3 separate regions of the Homo sapiens genome follow, and regions 1 and 3 are each reported to be linked to region 2. The links are microRNA targets in miRTarBase. Many come from high-throughput screens and were not tested one by one. Region 2 holds a microRNA gene; each other region holds the end of a gene's coding sequence.

Region 1 (3,102 bases), not on the chromosome of region 2:
AGCTTGCTAGTTTCTCAGGCCCCACCCCAGACCTCCCCAAATTAGAAACTTCACAGGGTTGGAGCCTGCTGATCCATGTTCCAGCAAGCCCCCCGGATGGCTCTGATGACCACTCAGGTTTGAGAACTGCTGCTTTAGGGTTGGCTCAGCTTAACCCTCAGCCTGCCTGTTTTTGTTTTTGGTTGGGAGAATGCTCCCCACGTGCAAAGTTTTGTTTGGTTTTTCTTCCCTTTTTAATTAACTCACATCCCAACCCTCACCCATGTTTGTCCTGCCTGCTTGGTCTCCCGACCTCTGAAGTACCGCTTGGTTTTCCTTTTTCCCTTCCAGGCGTTTCAGTTGGGCCCCACGGAAGCCTCTTACTACTGGGTGTACTGGGTTCCAACTCAATATGTGGATGCAATCAAAGACACTGTGCTGGGGAAATGGCAGTATTTTTGAAAGCACTTTCACCTCTGGCCCAGGAGACTGACCCAAAGTGAAGGACATTGCCGGGAGAGGCCTGCAGCATCCCTGGATTTCAGAGTTCTGGAACTTTGTTCATAAAAAATCTATATTCAATCTGAGGTGATGTGGTGACTGAAGCCAGAGGTGATGTACTTTCACCATTAGCTTAATTTTAACTTAAAATTACCAGTTCCCTTTCTTGCAGTCAGCTTCATACCATTTTTAAAGTCAATACGATGGAAATCAATAAATCTGAATTCCGAACATGTTGTGTGGAATACTCTTAAGTGTGTTTGAGAGTAGATCTGCCAATTATGTTGACAAGGGAATGATCAAAAGCTTTGTTTTTTTTAAAAAAAAAAAAAGCAGTTTCAATTGAAATATTTTCATACATCTTTGGTTGCAAACATTTGGACTGCATTGCAATGAGTTGGGGTGTTTTTTTTTTCCTTTTTTGTATAAAATTGTATGCAAAATGGGGGTGGGTTAGTAAGCCACATATTTCTGTCCATTGATTCAGATTTAATTCTTTCCCTTTTTCATTCTCTCGCTTCCTCAATTTGAGTTTTTGTTTTAAGAACCCAAAGATGTCAGTTCTTCTTTTGGTACCTCATCAACGCTTCCTTTCCTGGGCTCCCTCCCGCCGTGCTGCTGCTGCCTGTGAACGCACGGTGGGAGAGGAAGAGCTGCTCAGTCTTGGGCAAGGAGCTCTCACACTTGCTGTGGTGTTCGTTGAGCAGCAGAGTATCTCCCAGTGACTCCTGTTTAAATGTCTTGCCCTTTGGGCCCCCATCTCCAAGGAGTTCCATTGCTGGTTGGATGATTGTCTGCACCCCTCACTGAGCTTGGCCTAGAGGCCCAGCCTGGCATGGTTGTGCCTGGGCTGTGCCGCTCAACAGCCCCAGCTCCCAAGCAGACAAAGACCTCTTCCAGGAGGAGCCAGGTAGAAGATAGTTATACAGCCATATAGCTGCAGATCCAGATAACCTTCTTTCTTTGGAAGTTTTCAAGAAATTCTTAAGCAGTCCAAGGATGATTTCAATTATGCTTCTCCATTGGGTCCTTCTGCTCATGCATTCAGTTCAAGTGTCCTTTATCCCAGGTTCAGAGATGCTGCCTTTCTGAAGAAGACATCTGACCCTAGCAGGTTGGCCAGTGTTATTGAACAACAAAAATGGGATAAATTGCTTTCATGATTAGCTCACCTTCTTCTGGTTTTAGCCCTTCTGTTCTCTGTACACGTGAACTTCTGTCATCTCCTTCTGGCTTGGTTGCCTCTGAAAGGAGGGAAAGTCTCTTGGTAAATTATCTCTTTTGTGCTGTTTGCTGTTTCTCTGCTGCCGTCTTTGCAGTTCTCCTCTCACTGGTTGCAGGCTTTCATAGTAAGGTTTGGCGAGAAATGTTCCAAACATCACATTTTGGATTCTAGGCTGTCACCCCTCATTCTGTGAAACGTATTAGCATGTGTTCGCCCAAGATGACTATTCCTTGTGAGCCAGTTAATGATGATATTCTACGCCCTTCCCTTCTAAGCTGTAGTTCAGGAATCCAGCCCACATAGACAGACTCTTGCTTTCCATGGTGTAGTCAATGCCAAGTGATGCATCTAGGCAGGAAAATCTACTCTTTGCTTTTTTGGGGGCAATTAGTACATTTGTGAAGTGCAGCATCCAAGAAACAGCCTGTTTTTTCATCCCTTGAGAAAGGAGCAGTCATTGCAGCTTTTCTGTCCTTGTCGGCCTGCAGTTCCTGGGGAAAAGAGTACATCTGAGCTACTTGTCCAAGCCTCTGTCTGCAGGTGACAGGTTTTGGGGGAAATGAGATGCATTAAGTAGAACATCATCTCGGGTCAGACATTGCCCCTTTTGTTTGCCAATGCCCCAGTCCTAGAGACTTGTCCTGACAGTGCCGCACACCTACTTTTGATCTCTCAGAGCAGGTGGCTCCATCCCCAGACTAGCCTGGCTGCTCTCCGAGGCCCCTCCACCTGCTCCCCTTATTGCCCCATTCTTGTGGCTTGCCGGGCCACTTGGCCTCCCTTCTTGCCGGTGACAGCGTTCCATCATCTCCCCGCTCCCCAAGGGCCAACTGCTTCTCACTCAGGCTGGTGTCATTTCAGGAGGACCAAAGCCTGCGTGAGCCTTTTTATTTTCAGTAAAATGGTGCTTTTTTCCTTACTTCGAGATACTATATATAAATAATAATGTAAATGACACCTTTTCGTACGGAGCTGTTTGAGTATTGCTTTACAGAGCTCACTAAATCAGCTTCAACAATCTTGAGCTCTGTGGCTCCTCACCCTGTCTGCATGGAAGACCTTGCTGGACGCTCTCGGGAGAGCAGACATAGCACCAGAAGCCACTGGGAGAAGTGTTTTCGATCCGTGTCTGGGCCACAGTAGTATTCACTGTTTAGTCTTTGAGTTCCGTAAGCAGTCTCTTCATACATTTCTTACAGTCTGGAGTGTACTGACTAAATCTGTGTAAGCAAATTGAAATACTCTTTCTTTTAGGTAGCGTCACAGTGGTTTTTTTTTTCCTCAGGATAATTTCTATACAATTTCCTTACTGTCAGAGGGACCAGATCTTTCCCTCACTGTGGCAGGGGCCGTGCAGGTGGATAAAGGAAGAGCTGGTTTCCGGAGAGTGACTGTAA
Region 2 (3,183 bases):
TCATAAAAGCTACCCCAAATACAGCACCATGTGCATAGCTCTTAGCAACAATTTGACTGCTGATCAAATTTAGTCCAGTTGGTCCAGGGCTACTTAAACTTGATCCCCAGACAACTCTGGACCCACTGCAAAGCATGCTAGATAATGTCACAGGAGAAGAAAACAGATTAGGAAAAACATTTGTATTAAATCTGACCAACAATAACTAGTTTTGAATACAATGTTTTATACAGATAAGTTAAAATAAACAAAAAAAAACAGTATGACTCCAATCCAAAAGGACAGTGACACAAACAGGCAAAGTATACAAGCAATATAACAGGCAGCGAAAAATTCAAACCACTAGTCATCAAACAAAAGTAAAATTTTAGACCTATTAACCTCGCAAAAAAAAGCAACTGAAATTCCACCACCACCATCAGTAGTTGTAGTAAAATTAATCCACTCATTCACCGCTAAAGATGATCTAAATTGGTGCAGCCCTTGTGCAAAGCATCATGACGATAAATGTCAAAATTCATGAGCATGATCATTTCTGTAGACCAGAAATCTCACTCCTAAGCCCCATATCAAGAATAAAATTCAACCAAAGAATAACTTCATGCTTAAAAATGCTTACTGCCGAGTTATGAGCAAGCAACCAAATGCCAAGCTCTGTTATTTGATATAAAAGAACTTGATCAAATAAATATACAACCATGAAATGTATATTTAAGTATAAAATACAAATTGTGGTATGCACACCAACTAAAATTTCTGAAAATACGTAAGCACAGGAAAGGGAACATACAATAAAGAAAAAAGAAGTTATGATATTCCAACAAATGTTTAATTACTTGATGCTGATACAGTATTTTTTTAATTTAAAATGAGACAAATCCTTTGTGTCTTTTGAGGTTTCCTTTTAAGCTACATGCCTATTATTATCTAAAGAATAACTTCTTAAAAATAAAAATAAAAGAATAATTTAACAACTATACACACAGGGACAAGCCATAAGCTGCACCAACTGGATCCTAGATCCTCTTTTCCCAAGGGCAGCCCATTCTTGGTTCTTTCATAGCCCTGTACAATGCTGCTTGACCTGAATGCTACAAGGCAGCACTGTAAAGAAGCTGAAAGCACAAAGACGCAGCTCTGCTGAGGTGGGGGAGCCAAGGAGGGCACCCCTCGGCCTGCTCAGTCTTCTCCCAGCTTCCGTGACTTCCTCTGGATTCCTCCCTAGGGCCTCTAGAGCTCAGCAGTGAGTGTGGAGTCTACATTCAGCATCGTTATCCATCATCACCCCCAACAGTCCCCAATATCTGGAACACTGGCTACCTTCCACTCTTCCTCTACTTTCTCCTCAAAAGATGTCATTTTACCTCTAGACAAGTAGCAATGTTTATCTTCAGTTTAAAAAAAAAAAAAAGAAGATTAATCTGTATTTGAAGAGTTTTAACTTCGTGCTAAAACAAACCCCACCCCAAATGACTACATTTAGGCACTGTTCTGAGAAAACAGACGTGATGGGGCCCACTTAAGTTCAGTATTTTCCTTAGAGCAATTAAAGAAATCCATGTCCCCTTACTTCATTAAGGGCACACATTCTTGCTATTGAGCCAATGTTGTTGGTGATGGTGATCAAAGTCGCTCTGGCCAGGTCCTCTTTACTGACAGCCTCTCGCTTCTCCTTGCTCATCATGTTTCCAAAGCTGTGATGGGGGAAAAAAAATCCCATTGCTAAACCAACAGCAACAAAGCCCAACAGAACTTGAATGTTACTTTATTGAAATAAAATTAGCTTTTAGGGCAACATTGTTGAAATCTTCAAACCTTTTATTTTGCAATGGAGCATCTGTTCAAAGAGAAATGCAAACTTCAAACAGAGCCCTCCAACATTCTAAATGAGCAGACAGCTTTCCCTGCGGTTTCTACTGAAATCTAGCTTGGATACCAGATATTCACATATTCAGTTAGAATCTCATCAGATGCACTGGAAGGCACCATTGCTCCTGCAACCAGACAGTTCCAGGACAACACCTCTAACAGCAATTCATCTCAACTGCACAGCTGTTCCACTCAGATGGCCACATGCACATCTGGTAAACTGCTCTATCAGAGCAGAGTAAAGCACAGACAGCTGAGTCCCAGAGTGAGCTGCTTAAGAATTTCAGGTTTCCCTAGAAGATAAAGTACTTCAAAGTACATGCTCAGCAGAACTGCTACAATAATTTTCCAATCAGAAAAGGAAGTGATGACCAACGAGCAAATGTTACAAACAGAAAATCAACAGCATTGACCAAGTGCCTAAAACTTAGTAAACAAGCATGTATACATATGATTTTTCTATTAGTAAAAGCCATGTGCCCCAATATACGAAAAACAATTGTACTTCTAAACGATCTCAAAATGGAGACAATGATTTCATTTATAATAGCATTAGAGAATAAAACACTTACGGATATATCTAACAAAAGTATTAACACCTGTACAATAAAATCTACAAAACACTGCTGAAAGAAAGCAAAGATCTAAATCAATGGGAAGACATTCCATCTTTTTGGATCAGAAGACTTTGTATTAGGATGGCCAAAAGATTCAATGTAATCTCTATTAAAATCCCAGTTGTCTTATTTACAGACCTTGCCAAGTTAACCCTACAATTCATATTCTCAAGGTACCCAGAATAGCCAAAATAATCTCGAAAAAAGAACAAGTTGGATGACTCACACTTTCTTACTTCAGAACTTAATACAACGCTACAGTATCAAGGCAGTATGGTACTGGTATAAAAACAGACATATATATCAATGGAACATAACTTAAGAGTCCAGGAGTAAACCCAAACATCTATGGTCAACTAATTTTTGACAAAGGGGCCAAGAGAATTTAACAGGGAAAGAATCATCTTTTCAACAAATGGTACTAGGACAACTGGATATCCACACGCAAAAAGAAATGAACTTGGAGCTCTACCTCACACCATACACAAAAACTTACTCAAAATGGATCAAATATAAGAGCTAAATATAAGAGCTAAAACTGGCGGGCGTGGTGGCTCACGCCTGTAATCCCAGCACTTTGGGAGGCCAAGGTGGGCGGATCACGAGGTCAAGAGATCGAGACCATCCTGGACAATATGGTGAAACCCTGTCTCTACTAAAAATACAAAAATTAGCTGGGTGTGGCGGCACGCACTGT
Region 3 (3,102 bases), not on the chromosome of region 2:
AATTCTTTCTGCTTGATATGGCCAAATTAGTTTTTTCATAGCAATTGATGGAAACTATGATCATACTTCTTGATTACCTTTGCATAGTCCAAAAGAAACATTTGACTACGCCTTTTTTTTTCCTAATTTTCTTGGAGGTTCTGTGGCTATAACATCAGAGAACATTATATTGACGTTAGAATTTACTTAAAATGAAAATTATTTGGCAACCCCTGTAAATATTTTTGTTGTTGTTGAAAATGAATAAATGTGATTGTATTTGTTCTGATTGGAAATATTTTAAAAATCAGGAACAAATTAAAATTAGGAAATCTATACTTCCTCCCTAAAGAAAATCATATGGTAAACATTATGGTGAAATCAAACATATGGTAAAACCAATTTTTTCTTTCCTAGATATGCAAACATGTGTTGGTAAAAGACATAAAAATAATTGTGTTGGATCTGAGGTGATATGTTCTGAATGTAAGCACCGTCAACATCAGACACCTACTCATGGACATGTGGTTGCCGGATTTTCTTAAGATGTTTCCAGAAATGACTGATATTTTATATTTATACATTTTAGATGACAAAGCTTGATATTTATTGCTGTTGCACATTTTAAAGTTTTCTTTTTGGGTTGCTCTGTGTCAAGAGAGGTTACATGGTGTTAAATCGGTACCTGATAATGTACCCAAATACTATGGCCAGATAATAAATTGTGCTGCAAACAACATGTCTTGTATTTATAGAGGTCTCTGCATACATTTTTAGAGCTTTAGATGATTTGCTATATTTTTTATTCATGTAAAATGTAATTCCAAATAAGAAATTCTGAGTGTATATAGTCTCCAAAGCAGACCATCTGTTTCTGAAACCTTCCCCTGAGGTAGGTGAACAGCTTCCATGTGTAGATGAAATATGGCTGCCATTGATAAAGCTTGTTCTGTGTTTTCAGTGTCATGAAATCCCAGGCTCAGAGAGATATCTCTGCAGTGAATCATTGTGTAAGATACAAGAACAACACTTCTATTCAGGGATCAGGTGTCAGAGGGCCTGGGATAGCAGACAATTCATTAATTTGATTTAGAAGACTAAAAGTAGAGAAGCTTGAGAGAGGATTTTTTTTTTAAAAAAAGACTCAGATAAAAGTACAAAACCTGTTACTGTGAAAATGAACAGGGGTGATAGGAAGAAGAAATGAGACATAAGAAATAACTGATAATTCTTAGTCAACTTGCTAACTCTGTTAGCAAGTTGAATTGGTAGGAAAAACCTGAGGATGGAAACAGTGTGGAGAAATCTTAGCTGCAGATACACAGAGGGCAGAATGGAAGTGATATTGTTGAGTTATTTGAGAATAGGTCCTTTGGGACACTGAAGACTAGTTCTGCAGGTGAAATCTTTATCTTGGAAGACATTGCTCCCAGGCACATTGGGAAATCCTGGGCTGACAGCCCTTTCCTTGATCGAGAAACTTGTGATCACTTCTTAGTCTCCCTTTTCATCCTTTAGGGCCTTACATTACTCTAGTCTAGCTTTCTTCTTTTTTCTTTTCAACGTTTAAGTTTCCTTCTCCAGCCATCTCTCCCTGGATCTCCACAACTTTTCAACAGGGCCAAACTAATCCTATGAAACCTTCTGTCTTCCCAATGTCTTCTGTGCCAGCCACAGCTCTCCCTGCCTTTGCTTTCCTCATGACATTGTATCTGAGTTGCCTAAACAACTCATGTTTCCATGTACTAGCTTCCACTGCTTAGTTCAATGATTTCCATATTCCAGAGTGGTATTTCCTGTACTCTGTGCTTGGATGGGTTAACATCTGATATGGTTTGGCTGTGTCCCCACCCAAATCTCATCTTAAATCATAGTAGGAGGGACCTGGTGGGAGGTAATTGAATCATTGGGGTGGTTACCTCCATGCTGTTCTCATGATAGTGAGTGAGTTCTCAGGATATCTGATGGTTTCATAGGGGGCTTTTTCCCTTTTGCTCAGCACTTCTTCCTGCCATTATGTGAAGAAGGACGTGTTTTGCTTCCCTTTCCGCAATGATTTTAAGTTTCTTGAGGCCTCCCCAGCAATGCAGAACTGTGAGTCAATTAAACCTCTTTCCTTTAGAAATTGCTCAGCCTTGGTCAGTTCTTTATAGTAGCATGAGAATGGACTAATGCATCAACCCTCCCTGCTTGTCTAGTTCTCAATTCTGGTATCATGTCACCTGAATTCTGTTCCTGTTCTCATTTATACAGAACCACCTACTATGGGCAAGTCAGTGGCTTGTTTCTGTTTCATGGAATCTTCTAGCTATGGAGAGCTCAGGTATCAGACTTCAGAAGTAGAGCTTGGCTTGCCTTGTGCATGGAGACTTTAGTCTATGGCCACCACTAGTTAAGAGCAGATTAACTCTGCAAGGCTGGCTCCATAGACACCTCACTTTTTCCTGAGTGGTGCTGTCCTCAGTGTCTTAACACTTAAACACACCATGATATTCTGATATGCTTGATCAAAGGAAAATGTTATATTCTTTATTCAAGTAAAAATAATTGTTGGGACAATGGATAGTTGAGAAATGAGTGAGATCCTTTGTATAGAATTAAAAATTATAGTAATACACTAAGAGGATGTAAAATGAGAGTTGTCCGATGAAAAAGCTATGGACATTGAATGGTGCCTAAAGATAGAAAGGACTCAGTTGAGGGCCAAGAACATTTAGCATCTTAGATTTCCAGAAAGACTAGAAAGAGAAGCTATGAGTATGCAAAACCATTATGTCCCTTCTGAATAGCAAACTAGAAGAGAACTCATTTTCACTAAGAAAGTATATTGTATTTCCTAAATAAAGGAGACATTCTTGGCACTTTTTTGTAGGTTTTTTTTTTTTTTTTTTTTTTTTTTTTTTTGCCAAGTACAAACCAAATTAACCAGGATCTCACAGAGTGGGACTGTTGGAGGCGGCAAACCAGAGCCTGACTTTGGCTGGCAGAATGAGGCCCTGGGGCTGTGTCTGAAAGAACCAACAGAAATGTGACCACATCACTAAGTAATGGACTGGTCGTGAGGCAGAGACCCTGTTAACCAACCTGGAGACGCCACTACACACACATGTGCATGAGCACCAG

What was found. Region 2 holds the annotated microRNA hsa-miR-103a-3p (AGCAGCAUUGUACAGGGCUAUGA, at 1,058-1,080, opposite strand). A microRNA usually pairs through its seed, bases 2 to 8, with sites in the 3' UTR of a target mRNA and lowers its output. Matches are read on the target gene's strand: a 7mer-m8 pairs with bases 2 to 8, a 7mer-A1 pairs with bases 2 to 7 and ends in A, and an 8mer does both.
Region 1: miRTarBase lists UBFD1 as a target of hsa-miR-103a-3p. Seed matches in the 3' UTR shown: 7mer-m8 at 1,558-1,564.
Region 3: miRTarBase lists STAMBPL1 as a target of hsa-miR-103a-3p. Seed matches in the 3' UTR shown: 7mer-A1 at 705-711.

The regions. Positions count from the first base shown.
Region 1 is chr16:23,570,150-23,573,251 of GRCh38, forward strand. UBFD1 (ubiquitin family domain containing 1) reads left to right here. Exons shown (of 7, transcript NM_019116.3): 7 at 331-3,102. The coding sequence ends at 441. Among named protein-coding and RNA genes, the nearest start is that of UBFD1, 14 kb to the left of the region's middle.
Region 2 is chr20:3,915,438-3,918,620 of GRCh38, reverse strand. MIR103A2 (microRNA 103a-2) reads right to left here and starts at 1,127; the gene lies at 1,050-1,127. It overlaps PANK2 (pantothenate kinase 2), which reads right to left. Exons shown (of 7, transcript NM_001386393.1): 5 at 1,571-1,694. MIR103B2 (microRNA 103b-2) reads left to right here and starts at 1,058; the gene lies at 1,058-1,119.
Region 3 is chr10:88,922,772-88,925,873 of GRCh38, forward strand. STAMBPL1 (STAM binding protein like 1) reads left to right here. Exons shown (of 11, transcript NM_020799.4): 11 at 397-716. The coding sequence ends at 453. Among named protein-coding and RNA genes, the nearest start is that of ACTA2-AS1, 8.4 kb to the right of the region's middle.